Homo sapiens: one gene and its partners. The protein of the gene in region 1 purifies or fractionates together with the protein of each later gene. This does not show direct contact. Each region holds a gene or a part of one and is shown on either strand. Other genes may lie near its edges. The genes, in order: ASAP3, CRKL and ACAD11.

Evidence for each region.
Region 2: the proteins of ASAP3 (region 1) and CRKL purify together in Homo sapiens (affinity purification with mass spectrometry; one large-scale study listed by BioGRID and IntAct). This does not show direct contact.
Region 3: the proteins of ASAP3 (region 1) and ACAD11 purify together in Homo sapiens (affinity purification with mass spectrometry; 2 studies listed by BioGRID and IntAct, with this or other methods). This does not show direct contact.

Annotation. Positions count from the first base shown.
Region 1 is NC_000001.11:23,435,531-23,439,181, forward strand, and holds part of ASAP3 (arf-GAP with SH3 domain, ANK repeat and PH domain-containing protein 3), read right to left. Parts: coding exon 3,631-3,651; intron 3,305-3,630; coding exon 3,217-3,304; intron 1,943-3,216; coding exon 1,894-1,942; intron 1,791-1,893; coding exon 1,600-1,790; intron 1,515-1,599; coding exon 1,381-1,514; intron 1,125-1,380; coding exon 1,030-1,124; intron 499-1,029; coding exon 321-498; intron 1-320. UniProt on the Homo sapiens protein: Promotes cell proliferation.
Region 2 is NC_000022.11:20,923,897-20,927,547, forward strand, and holds part of CRKL (crk-like protein), read left to right. Parts: intron 1-3,651. UniProt on the Homo sapiens protein: May mediate the transduction of intracellular signals.
Region 3 is NC_000003.12:132,572,752-132,576,402, reverse strand, and holds part of ACAD11 (acyl-CoA dehydrogenase family member 11), read left to right. Parts: intron 1-476; coding exon 477-631; intron 632-3,651. UniProt on the Homo sapiens protein: Acyl-CoA dehydrogenase, that exhibits maximal activity towards saturated C22-CoA.

The DNA of each region.
Region 1 (3,651 bases):
CCATTGTACACTAAGCCCTTTATATACATGACTTCTCACTTCATCACCGTGGGTGCTATTATTAACCCCTTTTATAGATGAGGAAATGAGACTCAGAGAAGTAACCTGCCCTAGATCACACAGCTAGGAAAAAACAGAGCCAGGATTCCCACCCAGGTCTGCCTGACTGAAGCTGTGCTCTTTCCCACTTACCACTCTGATGGGTGAGATCTGAGCAGATGTCAGAGGTGGGGTGGAGGGGAGTAACAGCTGGTCCTGGAGAAGAACTGGGGAATATGTTAGACAGGTGGGTTATAAGTGGCCCTTGGAGGGGTTCTCACCTGTGCATCAGGCCCTGGCAGCGGCTGTCCAAAGTCCTGCCCATTGGCAAAGGCCTCCAGTACCGACAGGAGGTCCCTGTTGCAAATGGCTGTCCAGAGTCGCTGAGGCTCAGGTGTGCACCGGCGTGCAAACCTATGCTCCACATACTTGGCCATAATGTAGTCCCTGCGGGTGCCCCTACCAAAAACAACCACAGGATCTCAGAGCATGGACCGTGTCTGCCCAGCTGATCCCTGGGGCCCTCCCACAGGAGATACAGCTCTCTTTTTCTCCAGAACCATGTCCTGAAGACGTCTAGATCTGAGGCTCCCCTCTCCCCAGGCTTTTTTTTTAGACAGTCTCACTCTATTGCCCAGGAGGGAGTGCAGTGGCGCAATCTCGTTTCACTACAACCTCTGCTTCCAGGGTTCAAGCAATTCTAGTGCCTCAACCTCCTGAGTAGCTGGAATTACAGGCGTGTGCCACCACGCCCAGCTAATTCTTGTATTTTGAGTACAGGCGGGGTTTTGCCATCTTAGCCGGGCTGGTCTCAAATTCCTGACCTCAAGTGATCCGCCCGCCTTGGCCTCCCAAAGTGCTGGGATTACAGGCGTGAGCCACTGCGCCCAGCCTCCCCAGACTTCTGATCCAAGACTTTTCTACGACCCTGGACACTGCGGAGGCAGAATCCCCTAGGCAGGGTGCCCCTCTCTCTGAGAATCCCCTTACATGTCACTCTCAGCTGAGGGTTTAGGGCCGCCGTGTGAGGGTAGCTGGGCCTCCATGACCTCATTGAAGCTCGTGTTTCCCATGTTCAAGGCCAGCTGGAGTCGTAGGAAAATAGACGTGGGGCGGAGTAAGACCGGGCGGTTAAGCCTGCATAGGGTGGAGCTCCAAGCCCCCAGAGTCCCGCCCCTCGGCCGCCCTCCCGGTTCAGGCCCCGCCCCTGACCACCCGCTACCTGGCTTGTCCCAGCCCACCTCGGCCAGGTCCCACCCACAACCTGCAAGCCCCGCCCCCGGATGAAACTACACCCCTAACTCCGCTTCTGGCCCCTTCCAGGCCCCGCCCCGCCCTCACCAACAACTCGGAGGGGCCCAGCAGGTCCAAGGTGAGTGACTGCATGCGCGAAAAGCGCACGCCCAGTTCGCGGTGGACGCCCGAGCACTGGATGCAGGTGAGCACGCCCAGGTTGGTGCTGAGCCACGTGGGGTCTGCAGAGGAAAGCAGCTGGAGCCTGGAGGTGCAGCCCCTCCCCTCCACTTAAGCCTCCCTCCTGCCCCGGCCCCGGGGACCGACCTGCAGCCCCGCAGTCGCAGCACTGGCTATTCCCAGGCCTGCTCTTCACCTCCGCGATGAGCAGCTTTGTGAGGTCGTGCGGCTCCCCATCATGGCCGGCGGACCCCCAGGACCCCGGGCCAGCGCTGGGCTCCCCGAGGAAGGCGCTGCTCAGGGCTTCGTCCTTGCTGTTCTGCAACACTGACACCCACCTGCGGAGATTGAACGGGGTGGGATGGGGATGTCAAGTGGGAAGAGATAGGGCCGCCGGCCCCCACCCACAAGGCTGGCCGGGCTGGCCGAGGGGGCACTCACGCCTCACACTCGTGCTCGTCCTCTGCCTGAAAGTGGTACGTCCGGTTGTCTGTCGGGAGAGAAGGGGGCTTCTGACCCACAGAAATGCTGCTGGCCTTCCCGGAGCCCAGGGAGCCCCCACCAAAGCCGCTGGGGCCACATGGAGATGTGTCCCTGACAAGTCGGACTCTCAAGCTAGGAGTGGGAAGGGAGTGGAATGACAGTGGCCAGCACCAGGGGCAGTTTCTCAGAACTGGCCTCCGAAGTAGGATCCCAACAAAGCTCCCTCTGCGTGAAGCCCTGGTTCCAGGCTCAGACGAGGTCTCAAAGGGCTTGGAACCCCAGAGAACCCAGCTCTGAGGCAGGGCATCCTCTGAACCAACTGTCACCACCCCACTGGGCCCTTCCTGGTCTCCTCCTGGGCGACCAGGCCTCCTGTCTGGTCTCCCTGCTTCCCATTTCCCCTTTCCCCTAGCCTGTACCAGCTCCCAACTGTTGTGCCCAAGGCTCTGCTCTAATTACACCACTGCCCTGCCCCAAGATCTCCCATGGCTCTCTATTGCCAGGAAATAAGGTCCAAACTTTTAAGAGGGATTTCCAGGCCTCATCTCTCACTCTGCTACATGAACCCTCCACTCTGGCCAAACCGGCCAGACCCACTCTCCTGCTTCCATGCCTTTCATCATGCTAATCCTGTCTCCTCAAAAGCCCCCACCCCACAAACTCTTCATTCTACATGTCCTTCAAGGCTAAACTCAAATACTGTCTCCTCCAGGAGCCTTTCCTGATTCCCCACAGCAGTGCAGGCCTTCCTGCTCCCTAATCTTCTATGGGGCTATATCTGCACCCATCTTCTGGACAGCCCCCTCATCTTACAGTCCTGGGTACCCACCCCACACCCCTGCCAGAGAGTTTCCTGAGGACAAGATCTAGGTCTTTCTCAGCCTGTGTCTGCTCTCACACAAAGCCTGCACCAAAGGCTCTGAAGAACGAAAAGTAGAAAATGTAAAGAAACAATAATTTCATCTCCTTCAAGTCTGGGTATTTGGGAAAAAAAGGTAAAATTTTAAAAAAAGAAATAATTTCAAAACCCAGATGACCCAAATCCACTCAAATATGCTCTGTATAAATAGCCACATTTATTATGTAAAGTGGGTGCATTTTGACATTTAATGTGATGTGGGTATCCTAGACCTAAGGATTCTTATGTCTGCAGTAGCAGCAATTCGACACCATGTGTGGAACTGGACACAGACCCCTCACTGAAGCCCCCCGGGAGCTGACAGGTGTCTTAGAGAAGCCCTGAGCAGCTGTGGGTGGGGGAGAGGCACAGGGACCACTCACGGGTCACCAGGTCGAAGCACTTTTTCTCCTCAGGGTTTGGCCTCACTTGGCACGTCAGCAGGGTCAGCTTCACCGGGGGCCGGTTTATCTGTGGGAATTTAGGGGCGGAGGATGTATGCATTACCTCTGGCCCTCCACATTCTTTAGGCCTCCATTTCCCACTCTGTTAAATGGGCATAATCATCCTGTTCCATTTGTGTTTCTCCTCACCCAGCAGCACCTCAAGGATGTGAAGTGTAGACTAAGACTAGATTGGGGCCTTCAGGTCCCATCTGTCCTCCCAAACGGGTCTCCAGCTCCCTGGACCTAGGTTTGGGGGCCAGTCTTAGAGGGAGGGCTTGACATTATTTGCTCAGAACACCAGAAGAAGAGGGTCCATCGTGCCCTGAGACTCCCACCACCTCTAGGCCTCACCGTGCTGTGTGAGATGGTCAG
Region 2 (3,651 bases), on another chromosome or scaffold:
TAAAGGTTGGCTGTGCTCGGTGGCTCGTGCCTGTAATCCCAGCACTTCGGGAGGTTAAGGCAGGAGGATCGCTAGATCCCAGGAGTTTGAGACCAGCCCTGGCAAGATAGTGAGACCCCATTCCCACAAAAAATTAAAAAATTAGCTGAGCATGGTGTCATGCGCCTTTAAGTCCCAGCTACTTGGGAGGCTGAAGTGGAAAGATTGCTTGAGCATGGGAGGTCGAGGCTACAGTGAGCTATGATCATGCCACTGCACTTCAGCCTGGGCAACAGAGCCAGACCTTGTCTCAAAAAATGAATGAATGAATGAATGTAAGTTGTATATATTTAATATATTTAATCTCCATGCATGGTGAAACAGCTGTGGGAGAACTGAGAAAGGGTGCTTAGTCTAACCTGAGAGCCCAGAAGAGGAGCCTCACACACCTGTGAAGTAGAAGCCAATCCCTGAAGGGACAGGAGGAAACAAGAAGCATGGTTGTGCCTCCTCTTTACATCCCCTGTTCTAATTATTTAAGAACTCAAATCTAGACTTCCATAATTTGGAATGGGGAAAGGATTGCCAGTAATTTTAATCAGCATAGAATTCAACTCTGTGAATAAACCCCTTTGCGTTTCTCCTGACCAGTAGTTAAAATCATGTGAATTTGATTCAGAGAAAAATACAAGAACATGGCCAGGTGCAGTGGCTCACGCCTGTAATCCCAGCACTTTGGGAGGCCAAGGTGGGTGGATTGCCTGAGTGCAGGAGTTTGAGACCAGCCTGGGCAACACGGTGAAACCCTGTCTCTACTAAAATACAAAAAATTAGCTGGGCATGGCGGCGTGTGCCTAAGAGGCTAAAGGCAGGAGAATCACTTGAACCTGGGGGGTGGAAGTTAAAGTGAGTCGAGGTCGTGCAGCTGGACTCCATCCTGGGCGACAGAGTGAGACTCTCTCCAAAAAAACAAAAAACAAGAACACTGTCATGCTGAGAATGGAATCTTGTCCAATTAAGAGTTGTGTTCCCAGCCGGATGTGGTGGCTCACGCCTGTAATCCCAGCACTGTGGGAGGCTTAGGCGGGCGGATCATGAGGTCAGGAGATCAAGACCATCCTGGCCAACATAGTGAAACCCCGTCTCTACTAAAAATACAAAAACTAGCTGGGCGTGGTGGCATGCATCTGTAGTCCCAGCTACTCCGGAGGTTGAGACAGGAGAATCGCTTGAACCTGGGAGGCAGAGGTTGCACTGAGCCAAGATCACACCACTGCACTCCAGCCTGCCAACAGAGCGAGACTCCGTCTCAAAAAAAAAAAAAAAAAAAGAGTTGTGTTCCCATGGAAAGTACTAGTAGCCATTCGATTTGTGACTTTTAAAACTCAAATCCACAGAATTGTGACCTAAATTTTTCCTTTTGATCTGAATGATTAGACTAGATTTCTGAGGGTCTTTAAGATTAAAATATTTTAATTCTGGGCCGGGCGTGGTGGCTCACGACTGTAATCCCAGCACTTTGGGAGGTCTGGCAGGTCGGGAGTTCGAGACTGAACCTGGGAGGCAGAGATGACAGTGAGCCGAGATTGCGCCAGCGCCACTGCACTCCAGTCTGGTCAACAGAGCGAGACTTCGTCTCGGAAAACAAAAAACAAACAAACAAAAAACATTATTTTAATTCTTTCAGATAAGTAAAAGGGGGCACAGCCTATTAGTTGGGAGTTCAGATTAACTTGAGTTGAATCTGAGCTAAAATCATAACAAGTTGGGTGGGGCCACCAGGCACATAGCAACTCACCTGGAATGAACGTGACAAGAACAGTGGAAGAGGATGAGAAGAGGCTTTGAAGGTGCACACTCAACGGTATTCGAATTCTGTCACACCAGTTTTGTGACAGTATTAAACCAGAGTTAGGTAATTTGAATACCTGAGCTTTTGTGCTTTCAGAAACAAAAAAGGAGGGAAATAGGAAAGGGAAGTTCTTTGATATATAGAGGCCTACAATATACCAAAGCTCACTGCTAGACTCTTGGAATCTAATGGAAGTAAACCATGTTTTTGTTTTTGATTTTTGTCTTTGAGAAGCTTTGGTCTATTGAAAAAATTAGAATGCCATGACAGCTTAAAAGCAAAGGCAATCAACTGTACCTAAGAGGTGGGGAGAGGCTTGAAAGAGGAGATGCTCTTCAACTGATTCTTTAAGGATGAGAACAAGTATACGAGGTAGAAGAGGTGGTGGTAGAAGAGATGGTGGCAGTGCTTGCTGGTAAAGACACAGTTATAATTAATGTAGATGATGGGCAGGAACCTAGGAAGGAAAGATAAAGCCAACTTGTAAAGGGCCTCCTCAGCCTTGTAAATGAGCTTAACAATGGGAGCCATCTAAAGTTTTTAAAAAGAGAACTGTCAGATTTTAAAAGGAGAACTGATGAGTTTTACTTTTGAGAAACTGCTCTGGGTGGGGAAAGATCTGAAGGACTAATTCTCTGTTACTGGAGAGGGACCCTGAGAAGCTGAGCCAAGATCAAATGCCATAGGAATGTAAAGTGGCACATAGAAGGTGAGGGGAGAGGTATGATGACTTCAGAGAGGATTGAGTGGTGCCTTTGAGACAAGAGAAAGGGATTAGGGTGGGTGCGTGATTCTTTTCAACAGGAAGAATCTTTCTTTGAGGTACCTGCTGGAAGCCAGGTGGTATTTAGCAATCTGATGGGTTTGTTATTGAGAAGAGAGGTAAGGGCTGAATACATATAGATTTGGGAATCGCAGCTTAGATGGGATCACCCAGAATGAGGAGGCAGAACAGGAATAAGTAGAGAAAGAGAAGCTGCGGAAGGAGAGGCAGCCACAAGCATAGGAGGAGGAGCCATTAGTGATGGCCTGAAAGCCCAGGGACAGAAGGGAGGGGACCTGGGCATTAAATGCTGGTCAGTGATAAAGAATGGTGGTTACTGGCTGGACATGGTGGCTCACGCCTGTAATCCTAGCACCTTGGGAGGCGGAGGCAGGTGGATTGCCTGAGCTCATGCGTTCGAGACCAGCCTGGCCAACACAGTGAAACCCTGTCTCTACTAAAATATAAAAAATTAGCCAGGCATGGTGGCGTGCGCCTATAGTCCCAGCTACTCGGGAGGCTGAGGCAGGAGAATGGCTTGAACCTGGGAGGCAGAGATTGCAGTGAGCCAAGATCGCACCACTGCACTCCAGCTTGGGTGACAGAGCAAGACTCCGTCTCAAAAAAAAAAAAAAAAAAAAAAAAAGAATGGTGGTTAAAGCAGTTTCACTAGAGAAGTACTTAGCTCATCTTGGAATTGAATTTTTTTTTTTTTTTTTTGAGACAGTGTCGCTCTGTCGCCCAGGCTGAAGTGCAGTGGCATGATCTCGGTTCACTGCAGTCTCCACCTCCCGGGTTCAAGTGATTCTCCTGCCTCAGTCTCCTGAGTAGCTGCGATTACAGGCGCCCACCACCATGCCCGGCTAATTTTTGTATTTTTAGTAGAGATGGGGTTTCACCATATTGGACCAGGCTGGTCTCAAACTCCTGACCTCAGGTGATCCAATTGCCTCGGCCCCCTAATGTGCTGGGATTACAGGCATGAGCCAGTCACCACGCCCAGCTGGAATTAAGTTTTCTACCTTTTTTTTTTTTTTTTTAACTGTGAAATATTTCA
Region 3 (3,651 bases), on another chromosome or scaffold:
AGAATACCACCTCTTCCAGGAATGTTTTTGTGTTCATCCCATCCATTCACCAGGCCCCTGATACCTGCCAGGCCCTGAGGTTATAATGATGAACAGAAAATCTCTTCTTCCTTTGCCTTTGTTTCTCTCTGTATCTCTTACCCTTACCCACTCTTCTGGATTCTAAACTCCTAGTACAGGGACTATGTGTTATTCCAACTTTGTATCTATTGCAGCATTAATAAAATAGCTTATGCATAGTACATACTTAAGAGACAGTTCTGAAATTTGAAATGTTTAATGGTGGTGGTTTTAAAAACATAGAAATCAAAATTCCCATGAATTCATAGTGAACCTTATTATAGAACTGACTTTTTTTCACTAGAAAGCCATTTTTATTAAGGGCAGCTCATCTCTTTCCCAGGATTTGTATAAATAACAAAAGGAATGGGCTAGGCCATTTTCACATTCCCCCTTTTTTTCCCCTTTCTTCCCAGGTGAAGGTAGGGGATTTGAAATTTCCCAAGGCCGCCTTGGACCTGGCAGAATCCACCACTGTATGAGAACAGTAGGTTTGGCGGAACGCGCTTTGCAGATCATGTGTGAGCGGGCAACACAAAGGATAGCTTTCAAGAAGAAGTTGTATGCACATGTGAGGACGATTACTTATTTGAATTTATTGTAGCCCGGTGCACTACACTAACATTGAACAAAAACATTACTTGTGAGAGACAGACTTTCTCTACATGAACCGGGTGATTCTTTTCAATAAGGCATATTTATGTCTGTATTTAAATATAGTCTAATGAGAGGTATTTATCTTTATGAAAAATTAAATAGTTCCTAAAATGCTTCAACACCTCTGCACACAAGAGTGTAGACAGTTCCTTCAACTTTCTCAGATTCTTGTTCTTTAGAGAACCTGGAACATTAGAGCTCCCTGTGGACATGAAGGAGCTGTCATAAGGAAGAAGGATTTGCCTTGTCCATTGGTTTCCTAGAAGGAATTAGGACACATAAGTGTAAAGTTACAGGAAAACAGCCCAAAACTCAGGGAAAGGAGAAACATGCTAATAAACCTAAAAGTGGAATCAGCTTCTTCAGGAGGACTTGAATTCTGTCACTGGAGAAACACAAGTAGAAATGGGACCAACATTTTGTGAGATATTCATGACTTTTTGAATTATCATCTGTAAATTATATACTACTGAGTCTGTTGTTACAAATCACTGTAAACATAGTTACATGTGGCCCATATAATAAAAATTAGGAAATATGGCCAGGCGCAGTGGCTCACACCTGTAATCCCAGCACTTTGGGAGACCGAGGCGGGTGGGTTGCCTGAGCTCAGGAGTTCAAGACCAGCCTGGGCAACATGGTGAAACCCCGTCTCTACTAAAATACAAAAAAAAACAAAAAAAATTAACCAGGCATGGCGATGTGCACCTGTAGTCCCAGCTACTGGGGAGGCTGAGGCAGGAGTATTGCTTGAACCCGGGAGACAGAGGTTGCGTTCAGCCAAGATCGTGCCACTGCACTCCAGCCTGGCGACAGAGCGAGACTCTGTCTCCAGAAAAAGAAAAAAAATTAGGAAATATGTATTGAGATGAAATAGAAGGTATTATTTCAGACTTCCTTAAAAAGTCTTCTACAGAGAAGTAGGATATCCACATCATCTCCCTTCTAAGTTTTAAGAAGGCAAGAAAAACTATTATTAAATGTTCACTCTTTATTATTGCTAACATGTTAGTGTTAGGTCAAATCTGTGGTGATGGAATTGTATTTGTGTTTGCTGCACATGTATATTTTAGTATGTCGGTCTCCTTATACATTTTTGACCATCTTATGAAATTTGCAGTATGTATTTTTTACCTTAAATTATTATAATCTATGTTTGCTTTTTGTAAAGTATTATTCAGCATTATATGATTTATTTGTATAGTTTTTTAACTGAAAAGCTACAGCCCGCTTTATGACACTACACCTGGGAATAATTTGTCAGGAGCCCTTTTAGTATACAGCGAAGGCAAGTTTTTAGTATACAGCAAAGTTCAGCTGTTGGCTGGGCACTGTGGGAGGAGGTGAGAAAGTGTGACCCTCTGGGGCCCTGGATACAGCCTCTGATGCTGTTGAAGAAGGATGAAGAGGTGCTCAGGGCACCAACCATTACTTCTTACCCTTTTGTCAAGCTTGCATGCAAACTCTGGAGCAGGGTGAAGGGAGGACACAGTAAAGTCGACAAACAAGCATCGCGAATGCACAAAAGCCCTCTGTGCAAGTGCTGCTTTCCTGAGTGGTGTTTTAATACTGCATTAGTAAAAAATTTCCCTTCCACCTTTTAAAGTTAATGTGTCATGCAGAGCAAGCCTGGCTTTTTAACAAATATGCCTGTTTTCACTGGAAACTTTTCACATCTGGCACAAATAACGTGATCTGGCAGAAACAAAAAGATGTGTGAGCATGTCATAAGCAAAAATCTGGGCCAGCTTTTTTATTTTAATTTGTGAAAGGAACATTTCATTTCTTTGAATTTGGAGGCTCCTTCCAGCTGCCTTCTAATTTACTCCAGGCTGTAACGCAAAAAATTCTCCATCCCAGTTCTGTCTTAGGAAATATATTTGGCAGTTCCCTAGAGCACCTAGTTTCTACCCATTTAATGCTTTTCAGCAAATCTAGGGTCTATAGAGACCCAACTGAGAATACCTCCTTTATTCTAAAGCTGAGAAGTAAATGTCTTCTAAGTCTGTTCATGAAGTTATAAAGTTGTAATTATCCTGTTTTACAGCCATCAAAAAATATTTATTCACCACCAGCAACTTGTTTGAAATTAATTCAGAGCCATGTTTCAACCTCTAGGGCAGTGCCATCCAAAAGAAATATACTATGAACCTTAAATGTTATTTTAAATGTTCTAATAGCAACATTTTTAAAAAGTGAAAAGAAAAAGATGGAATTAATTTTAATAATATATTTTATTTAACCCAATATATCAAAAATACTATTTCAACATGAAATCAATATAAAAATTATTAATGAGATACTTTATATTTTAATATTTATTCTTCAATATGGGGTGCATATTTTATACTTATAGTACATCTCAGTTCAGACTAGGTATGTTTCAAATGCTCATTAGCCACATATGGTTAGTAGCTATCATGTTGAACATCACCGCTTTAGGGAAACTCTAATCAAATATCCCCTGTTGAAGGGCAAACATGACCAAGCATAAAAATGGCCAAGGTGTGCATGTTCTCACTCATAAGTGGGGAGATGAACAATAAGAACACATGGACATGGGGAGGGGAACAACACACACCGGGGCCAGTTGGAGGGTGGGGGCAAGGAGAGGGAGAGCATTAGGACAAATAGCTAATGCATGCAGGGCTTACAACCTAGATGACGTGTAGATAAGTGTAGCAAACCACCATGGCACCTGTATACCTATGTAACAAACCTACACATTTTGCACTTGTATCCCGGAACTTAAAATAATAAAGAAGAAAAGAAAGGAAAATAAAAGGACAATTAAACGTCAAAAAAATGGCTAAGATGTAAGGAAGGTGCGCAGTTTCAATCCCCTGCAGATGGCTAGCAAGTTATCCCAGCACCATTTATTGAATAAGGGAGTCCTTTCTCCATTGCTTGTTTTTGTCACCTTTGTCAATGATC